Linked DNA regions of Homo sapiens. The protein of the gene in region 1 interacts with the protein of each later gene in a biochemical or structural test. Each region holds a gene or a part of one and is shown in the gene's direction. Other genes may lie near its edges.

Region 1 (3,652 bases):
GAGGCCAAGAGGGGTGGATAGCTTGAGCCTAGGGGTTCTAGACCAGCCTGGGCAACATTGCAAAACCCTGTCTCTACAAAAAATACAAAAATTAGCTGGGAGTGGTGGTGTGTGCCTGTAGTCCCAGCTACTGGGGAAGCTGATATGGGAGAATCGCTTGAGCCCATGAGGTTGAGACTGCAGTAAGCTGAGATTGTGCCACAGCACTCCAGCCTGGGTGACAGAATGAGACCCTGTCTCAAAAATAAATAAGTTTTAAAAAATAATAAAAATAAATTTAAAAATGAGAAAGTTCTTACCTTGACAGGCTCATTTGGTAACAAGATTACTGGTCTGAACAGAGAAAGGGGAAGTATTGTCAGAATGAAGGAAGAGTAGCAGCAATATTTTATAAGTCACCAGGATTTATTTTTTGGTTAAAAAAAAACGACAAAACAGAAAAAAGAACGGTTAATACTTTCTGAGTCTGGGATCCATGTATTAACTGCTCTTTCTAACTATATATGAATGTTTAAGTTTCTATCTATTTCATCCCCCAGATCATTGTTATGGCATGCATGGAGTATGAAATGGGAAAGGTAAGTTACTTTCTAGTACCTGCTGACCTTAAAACAAAGGAAAGAAGAAAAAGGAGAGGGAAATTGGCAGCAGAACTTACCTGAGTGTACCTAGATAAAACTTATGTCATCTTCATAGTTTTCAGTTTGGGAATGCCACGTGATTCTCAGAGGATTTTTTTTTTCTCCTAAGAATCCTATTTGTTTGTTTTCTCAGTAGACCCTATGTTTTACAGTTAAAAACAAGGTATGCTTTTAAGATTAACAAATCACTTGCCCATTTCTATTAATTAGATATCTTTAACTGCCAGCCAGAGCTTTTAATCCTGTGCCGTCCAATATTGCATCCACCAGCCACATACAGCTATTGAGCATTTAAAATATGGCTAATGTGACTGGGGAACTCAATTATTTTAATTGATTTAAACTTAAAAACTGACATGCAATTCAGTTATCAGAAAGCTGTTTGAGTATGTGAAAATTTTTCAAATGTAAGTTTTATTAAATCTAAATGGAAATAAAATATTTCCAAAATTTGGCATCCTAATTGAGATTAGCTATAAATATAAAATATACACTGGATTTTGAAGACTTAGTAAAAAATGCCAAATATCTGATAATTATTTTATATTGGTTACATGTCAGAATGTTTTGATATATTGGGCTAAGATATGTTATTAAAATTAATTTCACCTCTTTTCATTTTTTAATATGTCTGTTTGAAAATTTAAAATTACATTTGTGGTTCACATTATATTTTTACTGGATATCACTGTTCTACTGTTGCCATTCTGAGTTGACAATTCTAATCAAAAGCAAGGGAACTAGGTATTTCACTTAGCTTGTGCAGCTGTTTTAGTAGACATATGATTTCTGTTAGTTCTTGTGAAATACTAAAAATAGGTCAAAGATTTCTATTTCTACTTTTTCAGACTCCCAGGAAGTCTGTAATTTATATATCCTTTAATGTTTGTTTTCCCATCTTTGGAGATTCCAATAATGTAGGGGTTGAAGCCCAAAGGGGTTAGACGCACCTAACCTAAGGTGAAGGACATAGAGCTGAATTTGCTTCCAAATGAGAGAGTGGAAAAGACTAGAATATATGGAGGGAAATCACTGTATTCTGCTTTGTGCAACAGAAAAAGTGTGAGCGCTACTGGGCTGAGCCAGGAGAGATGCAGCTGGAATTTGGCCCTTTCTCTGTATCCTGTGTAAGTGTAATGTCTGTTCTCATGTCTGAGTAAAGCCTCCAGGGTCTACCTTATAGAGAGCTTGTCTTTGCAATCACTAATACTTGAGTCTTCTTTTTCTTTTTAGGAAGCTGAAAAAAGGAAATCTGATTATATAATCAGGACTCTAAAAGTTAAGTTCAATAGTGTAAGTATAAAATAAGAATGATAAACTCAAAAGCCTATAGAGATCAGGCAAGTAAATATAGATGTGTGTAGCTCAGGCTGGGCATAAGACAATGGGAAGTGGTAGGGTCTTTGATGTCATGAATGAGTCTTCATATTCAAGAGAACTTTGAGCCTGGCCGACATGGCAAAAACCTGTCTCTACTAAAAACACACAAAAAATTAGCTGGGCGTGGTGGTGCATGCCTGTGGTTCCAGCTAGTCAAGAGGCTTAGGCAGGAGAAATCATTTAAGCCCTGGAGGTGGAGGTTGCAGTGAACCGAGATGGTGCCACTGTACTGCAGCCTGGGTGACAGAGCAAGACTGTGTCTCAAAGAAGAAGAAAAAAAGAAGAGACCATTGTTATAATATGTCTTCAATCTATTCTATACCATGGCACACATATAAAATGATAATATTTGTAGGGTGAACAGAAGCTGAACAGTGCATAGAGACTGGGGACCAGTTTGAGAGCTTAGGCTGCCCTAGGCCCTGCCCAGCTTCTCTAAGGCAAAAAGATTTAATATATCAGCATGATTGTGACACATTGGAGGCATACCAGTTGGGAAACACTGGTTTGAACTATTTTCATATCTAGCTATTTCCTCTTGTGAATGGGGCAGATGGGGACAAACCAATAGTAAGTGACCTGAAATCACTTTTAATGGTTTTCAGAAAGCATCTGGTCACCTGAGATCTATAGAGAAGAAACCGGAATAAATTTCAAAAAGGATATAGATACAACTTAGTATGCCGGACTGTTGTCTTGGTATAATGAGGTGGAGTTCTAACCACAAGTTGTCTTATTATCCTGGCTATTTTTAAAATAATTTCAACTTTTTTTTTTTTTTTTTTTTTTTTGAGACAGAGTCTCGCTCTGTCACCCAGTCTGGAGTGTGGAGTGTGCAGTGGTGCAATCTTGGCTTACTGCAACCTGAGCCTCCTGGGTCCAAGCAACTCTTGTGCCGTGGCCTCCCCAGTAGCTGGGACTACAGGTGCTCACCACCTTGCCTGGCTAACTTTTGTATTTTTAGTAGAGACAGGGTTTCCCCATGTTGGCCAGGTTGGTCTTGAACTCCTGACCTCAAGTAATCTGCCTGCTTCGGCCTCCCAAAGTGCTAGGATTACAGGCGTAAGCCACCACACCCAGCCTCAACTTTAATCTTATGAATATAAGACACAAGGGCGTAAATGTGCAGGTTTGTTGCATGCATGCCACTGAATAATCCCATCACCCAGGTAGTGAGCATAATACCCAATAGGTGGTTTTTCAGCCCTTGCCCCTCTTCCCCTCCCATCTGGCTACTTTTTATAGGAAACTCGAACTATCTACCAGTTTCATTACAAGAATTGGCCAGACCATGATGTACCTTCATCTATAGACCCTATTCTTGAGCTCATCTGGGATGTACGTTGTTACCAAGAGGATGACAGTGTTCCCATATGCATTCACTGCAGGTATGACACTATATATAAACCTTCTACCCAAAATGAACCAAATGTCAGAGTCTGGCCAGGACTGTGTAATTGAAAGGGGAAAAGGTTAATAGCAAAAACAAACGATAATAAATTCAACCTAAGCATTAAATTCATGTTTTTCTGATAAGTTACTTGTGAGTAGTACAGTTCTAGAGACTCTTGCTCTGAGATGTTGCCTAGGACCTCTTGCATGACAAATGGGCTCTGGGAAATGGTGGGGTT
Region 2 (3,652 bases), on another chromosome or scaffold:
TTTTTTTTTCTTTTTTTTTTAAATTCCAGACTAAGCAGCCGATAGTTTTAGAAAAGAGAATATGTAGGTTATTAGTGCAGATACGGAGCACCCTTGTTTTTTTACAAGCTAAATATAATTGAATATTCAAAGGACTCTGTGCCTTGAATTGTTAACTGAAGTGTCTGTGTACCTTATTTTACTTAGAGAAATTACTAGTTTAGTTAGTCTTGTTATGTAGATTTACATAATTCTAGTCAATCTTGCATGTTATGATGTTCAACATCAAGATTTTCTTTAGTCTTATTTTAAGATGTTAGCCTTTTTTATATTAAAAAATCCGAATTTGAGCATTCAGCTTACCTGATAAAAGTATAAAATATTATATCACAAAGTTATAACTAGCTTTCCTTTTAAATAATACAAGTGACTTTCAAATCTTTACATAGGTTTATTGTTAAGAAAAAAAATCAATGTTGCTTTTACCATTGACCTAGTTAATTAATATATTAGAAACCTGTGTTGTTTTTCTAGTTCACATCTTAATTGCATAACCCCATTGTTCTAATTTAAATACGTTTGTATGGGTTATGGGGCATCTAGGACAGTATTTTAATGTTCATAGAAATTCATTTCTAAGACTTAACAGATCCTGGTTTCAACCCTGCGTGAGGACCTTGGAAAAACGATGGATAAACCTTATGTGTTTTTCACCTATTAGGTACAGATTTTAAAGAAATTAATATTCAACATATGAAGTATACATAAAAAGAAGCAGCTTTGTTCTAGAATGTGGCAAGGATTCAGCAGTGATTTTAAGTGTAAATCGTGTTTATTCTCAGTATTTATTTGATTTTCATGTGCTTTTGAAACATAAGTTCTTGTGAAAATAAGAAGAGTTAACTTGGTGTTCAGAGTTTACTTACTAGACACAGTTATGTATATTTCTTTGCTTTTCTTAACTTGAGGCATGCGGTCATTACTAATAGGTGAAAGGTTACAAACATACTAGGTGTAATTTGAAAAACAGTATTTTATGTATCCTCACTTGTTTTTAAAACACTATATATTAAACCATAGGTACTTTCTGACTTTTATACTTTCATCAAAGTCTGCCCTAACCTTCTAAAAGTTCAGACTGAGATTTTACAAGGAAATACTTTTTAGATATTTCTTGCTTTTTACATGTAGAGACTAAAATCTTTCTGGAGCAGATTATTTTCATGATGGTATAGAGCACCAAACTGTCCTTAATTTTCTTTTTCATTAACAATTTCAATTCTTAAATCTGTTGTGCCTCATTAAGCTTTAGGGTTATTAATAGGGAAATGTCAAGACTTAAAGCAACAGTTAATCTTGCTTTAAATCCTATTTTTTTTAATCCTAAGTGATTAAAATCCCCATCTTCTTTTCAAGGGGTTATTATGAAGTTAGAAGAGTGATTTTTAAAAATCAGAGCTGTTATTTAAGAAGTGTTGTGTTCGTATATACACTACCATTTTTCCCAGGTTAACATTCAGATTTGTTCTTTTGGCTCAAATACAAAAAAGTAATCAAGTTTAGGCACTGCTTAGATTTGGTGGTGGTTTTTGTCAGCCATTTAAAAATGTGATAGATTTTTAAATTTGGATTTTGTCATCTGAATAAGTATTTCGCTCTGACAGCAGTATACTTGCTAGAACCTAAGTATTTTCAAGTTAAGAGTTTTAAGTTGAAACATAATTGGTACCAACAAATCACTGTGTCTCACATTTCTGTTTTTTTCTACTAAAATTTTATTTTTATTTTAATTTTTCAGAAAAAGACATCAGTTAATTTGAGCAGATGCTAGTCTTTGTATTTAACTAAATACATGTAAGTTTTAATTAAACAACCTTATCCATGCCAAGGAAGAGGTATATACATATTAATGTTTTAGTAAGAGCTATATCTTCTGCATGTATGAAGTGATAGGTCTAAAGTAGGCAGAACAAGGTGAATTCACAAGCTAAATGGGACTTTTTGAAAGATGTAGATTTAAACATTATGATTTATGTTATAATAGTCTCTTTAAGGAAAATTTAGATTAAATTCTGCTTAGATTTTTATTCCTTGTCGCTCACTCTTTGGTACTCAGTGCACTTCCTCATCTGCTTCCAACTGTACTTACAGCCCCCAAGCCCTTGGATTGCATACACACACGCACACACACACACACACACACACACACCCCAAATGTATGTTGAGGACTGCTATATACATATGAGTCTCCTGCAACACTGAGTACAGTCTGATATGAAGTGTCAATCAATAATTGATTGATTACTTTATGTCATGAAAGGTGGTTTAGGCACCAACAGTATAATAACTGATCTGTGTAAGTGAATGCCCTTGTGTAGTGTCAAGGGCAAGAGCTAGTGTCCAGGGCAGGAAGCATGGGGTTCTGATTTCGTCCAGATGTAGTCTACTCTCTTAAAGTCCCGTGACCTCATTTTCCTCAACAATAAAATCTTGGGCCTAGTTGGATTAGTTGATCTCTAAGAGACTGTCCAGTTGCATGATTCCTGGGGCTACTTAAAAAATATCTCAAACACATCTCCTTTTCGAAGGTTGTGGAAAGGCTTTTTTCAGCCGAAAATGTAAGAATTTTCAGATACTTGGAGTGATAGAATGTGAGTTTTGAAGATTTATTAACCGTAGTTTATCGTGATAGGTTTAAAGTCATCTATATTTTTTATATGCCTGAATTTTAAACTTAAAATTTTCTTCATTGGCTGTGCTACCTTTGCCAGTAAAAGTAAACAATTTTGGGGAGGGGTTTAGGCTTAAAGGAAGGTAAGTGTAATATTACTGAGAATAAAAATTATTTTTAGGCTTAAAATGAAGGTAAGTGTAATATTACTGAGAAAATTTTTTTTATTAGTTTTATGAGCTCATGTTTCTTTGAGAGAAGATAGCCTTCAGGAGAGCCATTGAATTGAGTGATAGGGGGTCAACATTAAAAATATAAGTGGGTCAGCATTAAAAATACAGCTCTAGCCCTTTGTCAAGTTTTCCTCTAGCTTTTTTTTTTTTTTTTTTAAAGACAGTCTCGCTCTGTCAGGCTGGAGTGCAGTGGCACAGTCTTGGCTCAACTACATCCTCCGTCTCCCGGGCTCAAGGAATTCTCCTGCCTCAGCCTCCTGTGTAGCTGGGATTACGTGTGCCACCATGCCCAGCTAATTTTTGTATATTTAGTAGAGATGAGGTTTCACCATGTTGGCAAGGCTGGTCTCGACTCGAACTCCTGACTTCAGGGAATCCGCCTGCCTCGGCCTCCCGAAGTGCTCGGATTACAGACACGAGCCACTGCTCCTGGCCTCCTCTAGTTTTTTTTTTTTTTTGGTACAGGTATGCATGTATTTATGACAAACACATGGTATAGATACATATACGAAGATATTTATTGAAGCATTGCTTATGATTACGAAAGATTGGATTATTTGATCTCTAAAAGTCCATGAGTAAGAAATGATTTAAGAAATTATGGCATAATGTTAAGCTAAATTTAATAACCCCTGCTGTAGGGAACAAAACATTTTCTACTAGTTCAGGTTCAAGAAAGCGATTGTTAAGCCACCTCATGTTTTGGGAATAGTCATGAACCTAAAAAAGCTACAGAGGGCCAGGCATGGTGGCTGATGCCTGTAATCCC

Evidence for each region. The genes of interacting proteins can lie anywhere in the genome.
Region 2: of the proteins of PTPN22 (region 1) and CDH2, one has a biochemical effect on the other in vitro, tested with the Homo sapiens proteins (one large-scale study listed by IntAct).

Annotation. Positions count from the first base shown.
Region 1 is NC_000001.11:113,854,664-113,858,315, reverse strand, and holds part of PTPN22 (tyrosine-protein phosphatase non-receptor type 22), read left to right. Parts: intron 1-299; exon of another isoform or gene 300-333; intron 334-539; coding exon 540-578; intron 579-658; exon of another isoform or gene 659-780; intron 781-1,591; exon of another isoform or gene 1,592-1,681; intron 1,682-1,696; coding exon 1,697-1,768; intron 1,769-1,874; coding exon 1,875-1,934; intron 1,935-3,266; coding exon 3,267-3,409; intron 3,410-3,652. UniProt on the Homo sapiens protein: Acts as a negative regulator of T-cell receptor (TCR) signaling by direct dephosphorylation of the Src family kinases LCK and FYN, ITAMs of the TCRz/CD3 complex, as well as ZAP70, VAV, VCP and other key signaling molecules.
Region 2 is NC_000018.10:28,170,613-28,174,264, reverse strand, and holds part of CDH2 (cadherin-2 isoform 1 preproprotein), read left to right. Parts: intron 1-3,652. UniProt on the Homo sapiens protein: Calcium-dependent cell adhesion protein; preferentially mediates homotypic cell-cell adhesion by dimerization with a CDH2 chain from another cell. Cadherins may thus contribute to the sorting of heterogeneous cell types.